2 linked regions of the Homo sapiens genome follow. The protein of the gene in region 2 purifies or fractionates together with the protein of the main gene of each other region. This does not show direct contact. Each region holds a gene or a part of one and is shown on either strand. Other genes may lie near its edges. The genes, in order: SNX4 and PIP5K1C.

Region 1 (3,812 bases), on a different chromosome or scaffold from region 2:
ATTAGCTAGGTATGGTGGCACGCGCCTGTAGTCTCAGCTACTTGGGAGGCTGAGGCAGGCGGATCGCTTGAGTCCAGGAGTTCAAGGCTGCAGTGAGCCATGATCACACCACTGCACTCTGGCCTGGGTGACAGAGCAAGACTCTGTCTCAAAATCATAAAAACTCCAAAATATTTATAAATTAGAATCAGTTTATGACAGAACTGGTTTATCATATTTTCTCTGCAGAAAAAAATTTTCCTCCTTCTAGTCTGTTTTGTGCCAAATTTCAAATATCTATGGGCCAATGCATGGGAAGTGTTTTTTAAATTACTGTAAAAAAATTTTCTTCTTCTTGTCTAGACATATTATATTGAACTTTTGGTACTGTATTATCATGTGAGTCATTGAACAATTTATATTATGTTATATATCAATTTATATTCTGTTAGTCTACTTACCTATTCAGTTTACACCAGAGATGAAAACTTTAAAAAGTTTGTAATAACCTTTGTTGTATTTCTTTTAGGGAAGAAATAAACAGCAGCATAGAACTCAAGTGTCCAGCTTACCACTACTAATGCTCCTTGATTTTCAGATCATCATCTCATTCCCAAACACTAATTCTAATGACTAAATTTAAAAAGCTGTTACAAAAACTAAATAATCCTGTACCACTAACAGATAAAACTTAGAACTATTTAAAAATGACTCCTTTGTCCCCATTTCAAACTGACCACCATGTCTCAACAGACAGAAGAAGCATGACTAAGGGCTTATCTTTTAGACTGCTAAGGTTGGACTCTTTCATATGTGATAGAGTGAGCAACTGTCGGGGGCAGGGATACGAATGGAAACAGGACAGAAGAAAAAAAGAGGCAAGGTATAATACTAGTACACTGGGGAAAATCTACAACTTGTATTTAAATTACTGCTTCATTACTATAAACACTAACTAAAAAAAAAAAAAAAAAATTCACTGTTACAAAATGTTCTTTCCCTGTAGAATAAATTTGCCCATTATAGTCTCATAAGTAACTAAAATTACACAAATCAAAAGTGAATTGTAGTGTTTCTTTGAAAACCTTACCAATGATATTTATTGTAAGACGATTTCCAACATTCATTTATTCAATAAATACCAAGTTCCCAATGAGTGCATGGCACCATGCTGGGAACTGTAAAGGAACATGGCAAATTTCATATAAATATTCTTACCTTCAGCTGAAACCCAGTTTCATTCACAGTCTCCTTCCAGTTACCTTCCTAAAAATTGAAGTTAATTTTAGAAATCATTATTGCAAAGCAAATATTCCAAATTAAGTAAATTAAATTTCTATCATTCTGTTCTTACTTCAGCAGGAATTGGAGAGAGAAGTTTAAAAAAATTTCTTTTCACTTCAAAATTAAACATTCAATCCAACTTCTAAAAGATTACCAAAGGTGAACCCAAGATTTTATAGATCTGGGCTTCAAAATACTGAAGACAAATTTTAATATTATTTAAATGATACCAAAAATACCATCATCAGTATCTTTAAATAGAAAAAGTTAACCAAAAGAATGACATAATCCATTAATTAGAAATTCATAACAAAAAATAAATTGCATATAAATTAATGAAAAGATCCTTAAAATAAGTATTCTACAATTTTTTTAAGAAACCCAAATTAAATGAATATTTTACTAAGACTAAATAAAAGAAAAATACCTGTGTTAAAAACAGATAGAAGATTTTGTCTCTACAAAGGATGGGATGTGAAGCAATCCTCAAGAGAAAGTTTTCTAAACCAATCCGTCGCCTCTCCACAAAATCTGGATCCATGTTGTCAGCAGAGAGTTTATGCCAAACAAATTCTGCCTAGGTAAACAAAATAATCATTAAGAATAGTCTCAATGCTGAATACTTCTAAACTACTGCCATTTCACTTCTTACCCGTTTTTCTGGCAGAGGTGGCACAACAATATGTGGATAGTAAACTAAAAGGTAGCTTCTCAACAACTCAAATTCACTATATCGCCGCCATAGTGAGTCTGTTAGGACACTCTGACCATCGGTATGTTCAACTGACCTGAAAAGGAACAGAACAACACTTGTTATTTTTTATAAACAAAAATACATACACATAAATACAATCACCTTTAAAATTATAACTACAGAATGATTATGAACCAGGCACTAAGTAAAGAACTTTTCATACATTTTTCTTTTTTTTCAAGACAGGGTCCCACTGTCGCTCAGGTTGGAGTGCAGTGGTGCAATCACCACTTACTGCAGCCTTCGCCTCCTGGGCTCAGGCAATCCTCCCACCTCAGCCTCCTGAGTAGCTGGGACCACAGGCACATGTCACCACATTGGCTAATACTTTAATTTTTTGTAAAGATGGGGTCCAGCTATGTTGCCCAGGCTGGTGTCAAACTCCTGGGCTTAAGCCATCCTCCTGCCTTGGCCTCATGTATTTTCATATTTAATCCTTATGACAACCCTGTGAGGCAGAGATTTATTATCCTCATTTTACAGATGAGGACACAGCTGCACAGTATATGCTCTGCCTATGATCACAAAGGTCTGTGGATAAAGCACTCAGATCCATCTGATTTCAAAGCCCTTACTCCTAACCACTTTCTTTCTGTTACAGAAAGCCTGTTTAAACATAAGAGAAACAGTTTTATTAGGAACACTCTAAAAGCCTTAATGCATAAATAATTGATTTTATAATATGATAAAATCTAGTTTAGCTAGTGTTTCATTAAATAAAAAGCATTTTTAACTTCACTTCTGCCAAAATGAGAGAATAACATTCACAACAAAGACCAAGACACCACAAAAACTTCAATTTAGGTTATTAATAAATCAGATTAATCCAAGTACCAAGAAATATCCAAAAGAACAAAATATTAGTTAGCTCTGAAAGAGTGGCGAAGAGGGGTCATAAAAATTCATCTCCAGTCTTACTTTTAATTATAAAGGGCTGGTAGGCAATGCCATGTCTCATACATACAAAAGTTCAATTTACTTTTGGCAGAAAGTTAAGGTAAAATCATATAAAGGATATTTTAAATATTTTGACTACTTAGGATTTCTTGCCAGCATAAGTAAGACCTATTAGGAAGCACCAGTCTTCTAAACATTATCAGGACCTTGCTATTTTCTAATTTGCTTGACAATAACCTGTTTGCCCTCCATGAAATGCACAAGGTGTATTTGTACATTAGGACAAAAAGTCACAGAACTTAAATCAGTCTCCAAATAGTCTAGAGAAAGTATTTACATCATGCCATGCTCAGCACAATAGATGCTCATTTTTATCATTTTTTAAGTTTGCTACTAAATTTATTCATTGCATATTAATAAAAATGAACCAAAATATGAAATGCAAAATTCACAAATGGCTCCCATGGCAAAAAAATAGAATTATTAAATCATAATTCATTTTAAAGAGTATACCTAGACATTAGTTATAACTAATACTATCCCAATTACAATGCCCAACTTCAGCTGAAAAATACTTGGGTTAATCTCAAGTTTCAAATTATTCAAAATCACTACCAACAAAACCCAAAACTTGTAAATAAGTGGATAAATAAAGCCTATAAGCAGTACACCTACAGGGCTGATAGAAGGTCTGCATAAGTGTTTAAAAAAAAAAAAAAAAAAAAACGCGGTTGGATGCGGTGGCTCACGCCTGTAATCCCAGCACTTTGGGAGGTCAAGGTGGGTGGATCAGGAGTTTGAGACCAGCCTGGCGAACATGGTGAAACCCCGTCTCTACTAAAAATACAAAAAATTATCTGGGCGTGGTGGCAGGTGCCTGTAATCCCAGCTACCCAGG
Region 2 (4,377 bases):
TTCTGGGCCAGTTCTGAAGGTGAAGCTGCCATCATTTGCTGCCAGATCAGCCGTGGAAGTGGGGCAGGGGCAGGGATGCAGCTGACCTTTCCAGGGCATCACAGAGACAGATCAGCCGTGGGAGTGGGGCAGGGGCAGGGATGGAGCTGACCGTTCTGGGGCATCACAGAGACAGGACAGCCTGGGAGAGGCTCAGACACGCCCAGGCCACAGCTCAGACCAAACTCCACCACAGGCCATCGGCCCACACAGTGGGCACAGCCGCATCCCAAGCCCCGGCCTTCCCGAGACCGCCCCCACGTGCCCCACGGCCACGGCCCATGGAGACGCCATTCAGGCCACGCCTCGGGAGCCAGGAGCCCAGGCAATTAGAGGAACCAAATTCTAAACACCAACGAGACATTGCTTTGCCTCCCATCGGATCAGCCGAAATCGCCAAGGACGATGACACTGGGAGCTGGCAGTGCCGTGGGAAACGGGCAGCCTCCCTCGGCCCCTGTCGGACAAGGCTCCCGCTGTAGCTGAGCTTTCTGGAAGGTGTCGCCATCGCTTCTAACAGTGAGCGGTGACTCCAGAAACCACGGGCATGGGCCTCAGCAGGGGCCTGGAGGCACCGATGGTGGAGAGGCCGGAAAGGGGTGGCCAACCGGCACGACAATCACCAAGCACGAGCGCCAACTCATCCCAGGCTCAGCCCCTAGCACACACGGTCATCACCCCACTTCACAGACGGGACGCTGAAGCCCGGGGAAGTGACGGCCACACAGCACCTGAAGCGCGGAGCTGGGAGGGGGACATCGGCGGGACCAACTCTGGGGCTCCCCCTTAACCACTGCCTGGCGCTCGCCCTCTCTACAAACCGATACCAACATAGGGTGGGGAGACTCCAGATGACCAGAGATAAAAAGCAAGCAGTTCACAGAGTCATAAACGTGTGGCATTTCTCACCAGGGCCGTCCTGCCCCCAGGGGACACTGAACGGTGTCTGGGTCACTTGTGGCTGTCACAACTGGCAGGTGCTCCTGGCATGGAGTGGGCAGAAGCCAGGGGCGTTGCTCAGCACCCCTAATTTCCTGACTCAAAATACCTCTGCCAAGGCACAGAAGCCCCAGTGAGGCATGAAACCATCTCGGTGAAGAACAAGCAGGCCCCTTTATGTGCTCACGTCTCTGTGGCCCAGCCAGGCACAACCTAAACTCACCAGCGCTAACATCAGGAGGGATGGCGTTGGAGGAGTGAGGCAACTCTGAATTTTAAACATTCAGAAGCAGTATATGGCCAGCTGGGGTCAGATTTCTGTGGATTTCAGGGATGGGCAGAGATGCCAGACCCTGACCTTCCAGCCCTCCCCGGCCCCCCACCCCCACCCCCCCACTCCCCCGCTCTCCCACCCCACCACCATGCTCAGTCTGGAGCTGGCAACTTTATCTGTCCCCGGTGCTCCCAGAGCCCCTGATAAGATGAATGGTCGCGGTGTGGTTTTCTTTTGGTCAGCGAGTCCTGGGCTACTTTGTCTCTGACCAGCTGGGGTCAGAGGGCTGACAGCGGAAGTTGGGGGGCCCAAGAAAGGAACCCGGGCTGGGGCCTGGTGCCCTGCCTGGGTTCCTCCACCATGTCTCTTGCTGGCCAGGCCAGGACACCGGCTGCCCGCAAAGAAAGGGGCGAGGCCACTGGCTCTGGGGAAGGAACCGGGTCACCTACCAAGCGGTTCCAGATGGCCGCCGGGAGGGAAGCCACGAGTGTCTTTCAAGGCGGGGGGTGGGGGGGGGACTTGATGACTTCCACACTCTCTCTCTCTCCAGACATCTCCCCAACTCCCAGGCAGCACGCATCGCCCGCCCGCCCGCTTGCCCGCCTGCCAACCAAGGAAGCTTCGGGAGGCCTGGGGGGAGAAGGAGGACGGATGCCCGTGTGGGTGTCTACAGAGACGCTGCTGCTGGCTGCCTGGGAGGAGCAGAGGATTTTGTGAATCCGGAAACTTCCGATTTGGGAGCTTGTGACCTCGACTGAGAAGGAACTGTTCCCTTCCTCTGGGCTCTGCACACCGTCCCCACAGAAGGGAAGGCCCAGCTGCCGCCACCTACCCGGCTGGAGGTCCAGGAAGCAGCTAAAGGGGGCATGAGACAGCCGTGCCCCCCGCCCAGCCCGCAGCCCCACCAGTGTGTCCTGGGGGAAGGCTCGGGGAGAGGAAAAGGGGGCGACAGGGCACCCTGTGTGCACAGCCGGGGCGGTGGAGGCATCTTGAGATGTAACCCTTTTCCTCCCCTCATTTTAGCAGGGAGGTAAACTGAGGCCCAGGAAGGTGAGGAAAGGTCGCGCACCCGGACTCAGGTCTGGGGACTTACAGAAAGGGAGGTGACATCAGGAGGTGGGCACGCACGGCCTCAGAGACCCCCGCCTCCACCCAAGCAGCCGCCACTCACACGACGGGCAGCCCCTGGGAGCGGGTCAGGCAGAACGGGGATCCCCAGCGGCGCCCACGCCGAGTCGCCCCCGGCCCGGGAGCGGTGGGAGGTAGCCCCTCGCAGGCCTCCCGCTTCCCGGCGCGGCTTCAGCCCCGTCCTCCCCGCGGCTCCAGGGGACTGCCCCGCCCCAGGCTCCTGGAACCGGCGGCGCCCCCGCAGCGACCGTGCAGCCCCCGCCCCGGCCCCGCAGCCCCGCGACTCTCGGCGCTCGGACGAGCCCAGCGGGCCGCAGCCCCGGGAGGCCGGGCCGTTACCTGCCGCCGCCCCGCTCTCTGCCGCCCACGCCGCCTCCGAGGGCACGGCCCCCGCCTCAGCGCTCTCCGCCTCGTCCGGTACCTCCAGCTCCATGGCCGCGCGCGGACGGCGGCGGGGGCGCCCGAGGGGGACCCGAGCTGCGACCGCCGCCGCCGAACAACAAGCGCCGCCGGCCAAGGGAGGGCGCGCCGGGCCGGCGCGGGGCGGACGGGGCGGGGCCTGCGTGCGTGCGACGCCGCGGACGGCGCGCGGCCAATCGGGGCTCGGGGGCGGGGCCTGCTTGCGACCCGCAGCCAGGAGCGCCTCGAGTGCCCCCTCGCGCCCAGGGGTGGGAGTACAGAGCCAGGCTCGCCATTCCATCGTATTAGGTCAGTAAGATTGACAGGCACGATACGTATCAATAACATTGCTGTGCACAACACATACCAATAACATGGATCTACACAACACATGACAATAATATGGATCTATACAGCACGTGCCAATAATATGGATGTACACAGCACATGCCAATAACATGGATCTAAACAGCACATGCCAATAACAGGGACCTGCACAGCGCATGACAATAACATGGATCTGGCCGGGCGCGGTGACTCACGCCTATATTCCCGGCACTTTGGGAGGCCGAAGAGGGCGGATCACCTGAGGTCAGGAGTTCAAGACCATCCTGACCAACATGGTGAAATCCTGTCTCTACTAAAAATACAAAAAATAGCTGGGCGTGGTGGCACATGCCTGTAATCGCGGCTACTCGGGAGGCTGAGGCAGGAGAATCGCTGGAACCCAGGAGGGAGAGGTTGCAGTGAGCTGAGATCGCACCATTGCCCTCCAGCCTGGGCCACAGAGTGAGACTCTGTCCCAAAAAAAACCACACATGGACCTACACAGCACATGCCAATAACATGGAGTTACCCAATGCATGCCAATAACATGGATATACACAATACATGCCAATAACACGGATATGCACAATACATGCCAATAACATGGATATACACAATACATGCCAATAACATGAATCTATACTATATCATTGACATGGATCTACATAAAACATACAAATAGCATTGCTATATGCAATACATGCCAATCACATTGCTATACACAATGAATACCAATAACATTGATCTACACAATACATGTAACTAACATTGATACACACACTACATGTCAATAACATTGATATACACACTACATGCCAATAACATGGATATACACACTACATGCCAATAACATTGATATACACACTACATGCCAATAACATTAATGTACACACTACATGTCAATAACATTGATATACACACTACATGTCAATAACATTGATATGCACAAAATATACCAATAACAGTGATATACACAGTACATGTAAATAATATTGATCTACACAGGGCCGGGCGCGGTGGCTCATGCCTGTAATCCCAAGACTTTGGGAGGCCGAGGCGGGCGGATCACGAGGTCAGGAGATTGAGACCATCCTGGTTAACATGGTGAAACCCCGTCTCTACTAAAAATACAAAAAATTAGCCAGGCGTGGTGGCGGGCGCCTGTAGTCCCAGCTACTTGGGAGGCTAAGGCAGGAGAATAGGGTGAACCTGGGAGGCAGAGCTTGCAGTGAGCTGAGATCGTGTCACTGCACTCCAGCCTGGGCAACAGA

What was found.
Region 1: the proteins of PIP5K1C (region 2) and SNX4 purify together in Homo sapiens (affinity purification with mass spectrometry; one large-scale study listed by BioGRID and IntAct). This does not show direct contact.

What each region holds. Positions count from the first base shown.
Region 1 is NC_000003.12:125,496,144-125,499,955, forward strand, and holds part of SNX4 (sorting nexin-4), read right to left. Parts: intron 2,052-3,812; coding exon 1,916-2,051; intron 1,841-1,915; coding exon 1,691-1,840; intron 1,246-1,690; coding exon 1,198-1,245; intron 1-1,197. UniProt on the Homo sapiens protein: Involved in the regulation of endocytosis and in several stages of intracellular trafficking. Plays a role in recycling endocytosed transferrin receptor and prevent its degradation.
Region 2 is NC_000019.10:3,697,578-3,701,954, forward strand, and holds the start of PIP5K1C (phosphatidylinositol 4-phosphate 5-kinase type-1 gamma), read right to left. Parts: upstream 2,892-4,377; 5' UTR 2,814-2,891; coding exon 2,720-2,813; intron 1-2,719. UniProt on the Homo sapiens protein: Catalyzes the phosphorylation of phosphatidylinositol 4-phosphate (PtdIns(4)P/PI4P) to form phosphatidylinositol 4,5-bisphosphate (PtdIns(4,5)P2/PIP2), a lipid second messenger that regulates several cellular processes such as signal transduction, vesicle trafficking, actin cytoskeleton dynamics, cell adhesion, and cell motility.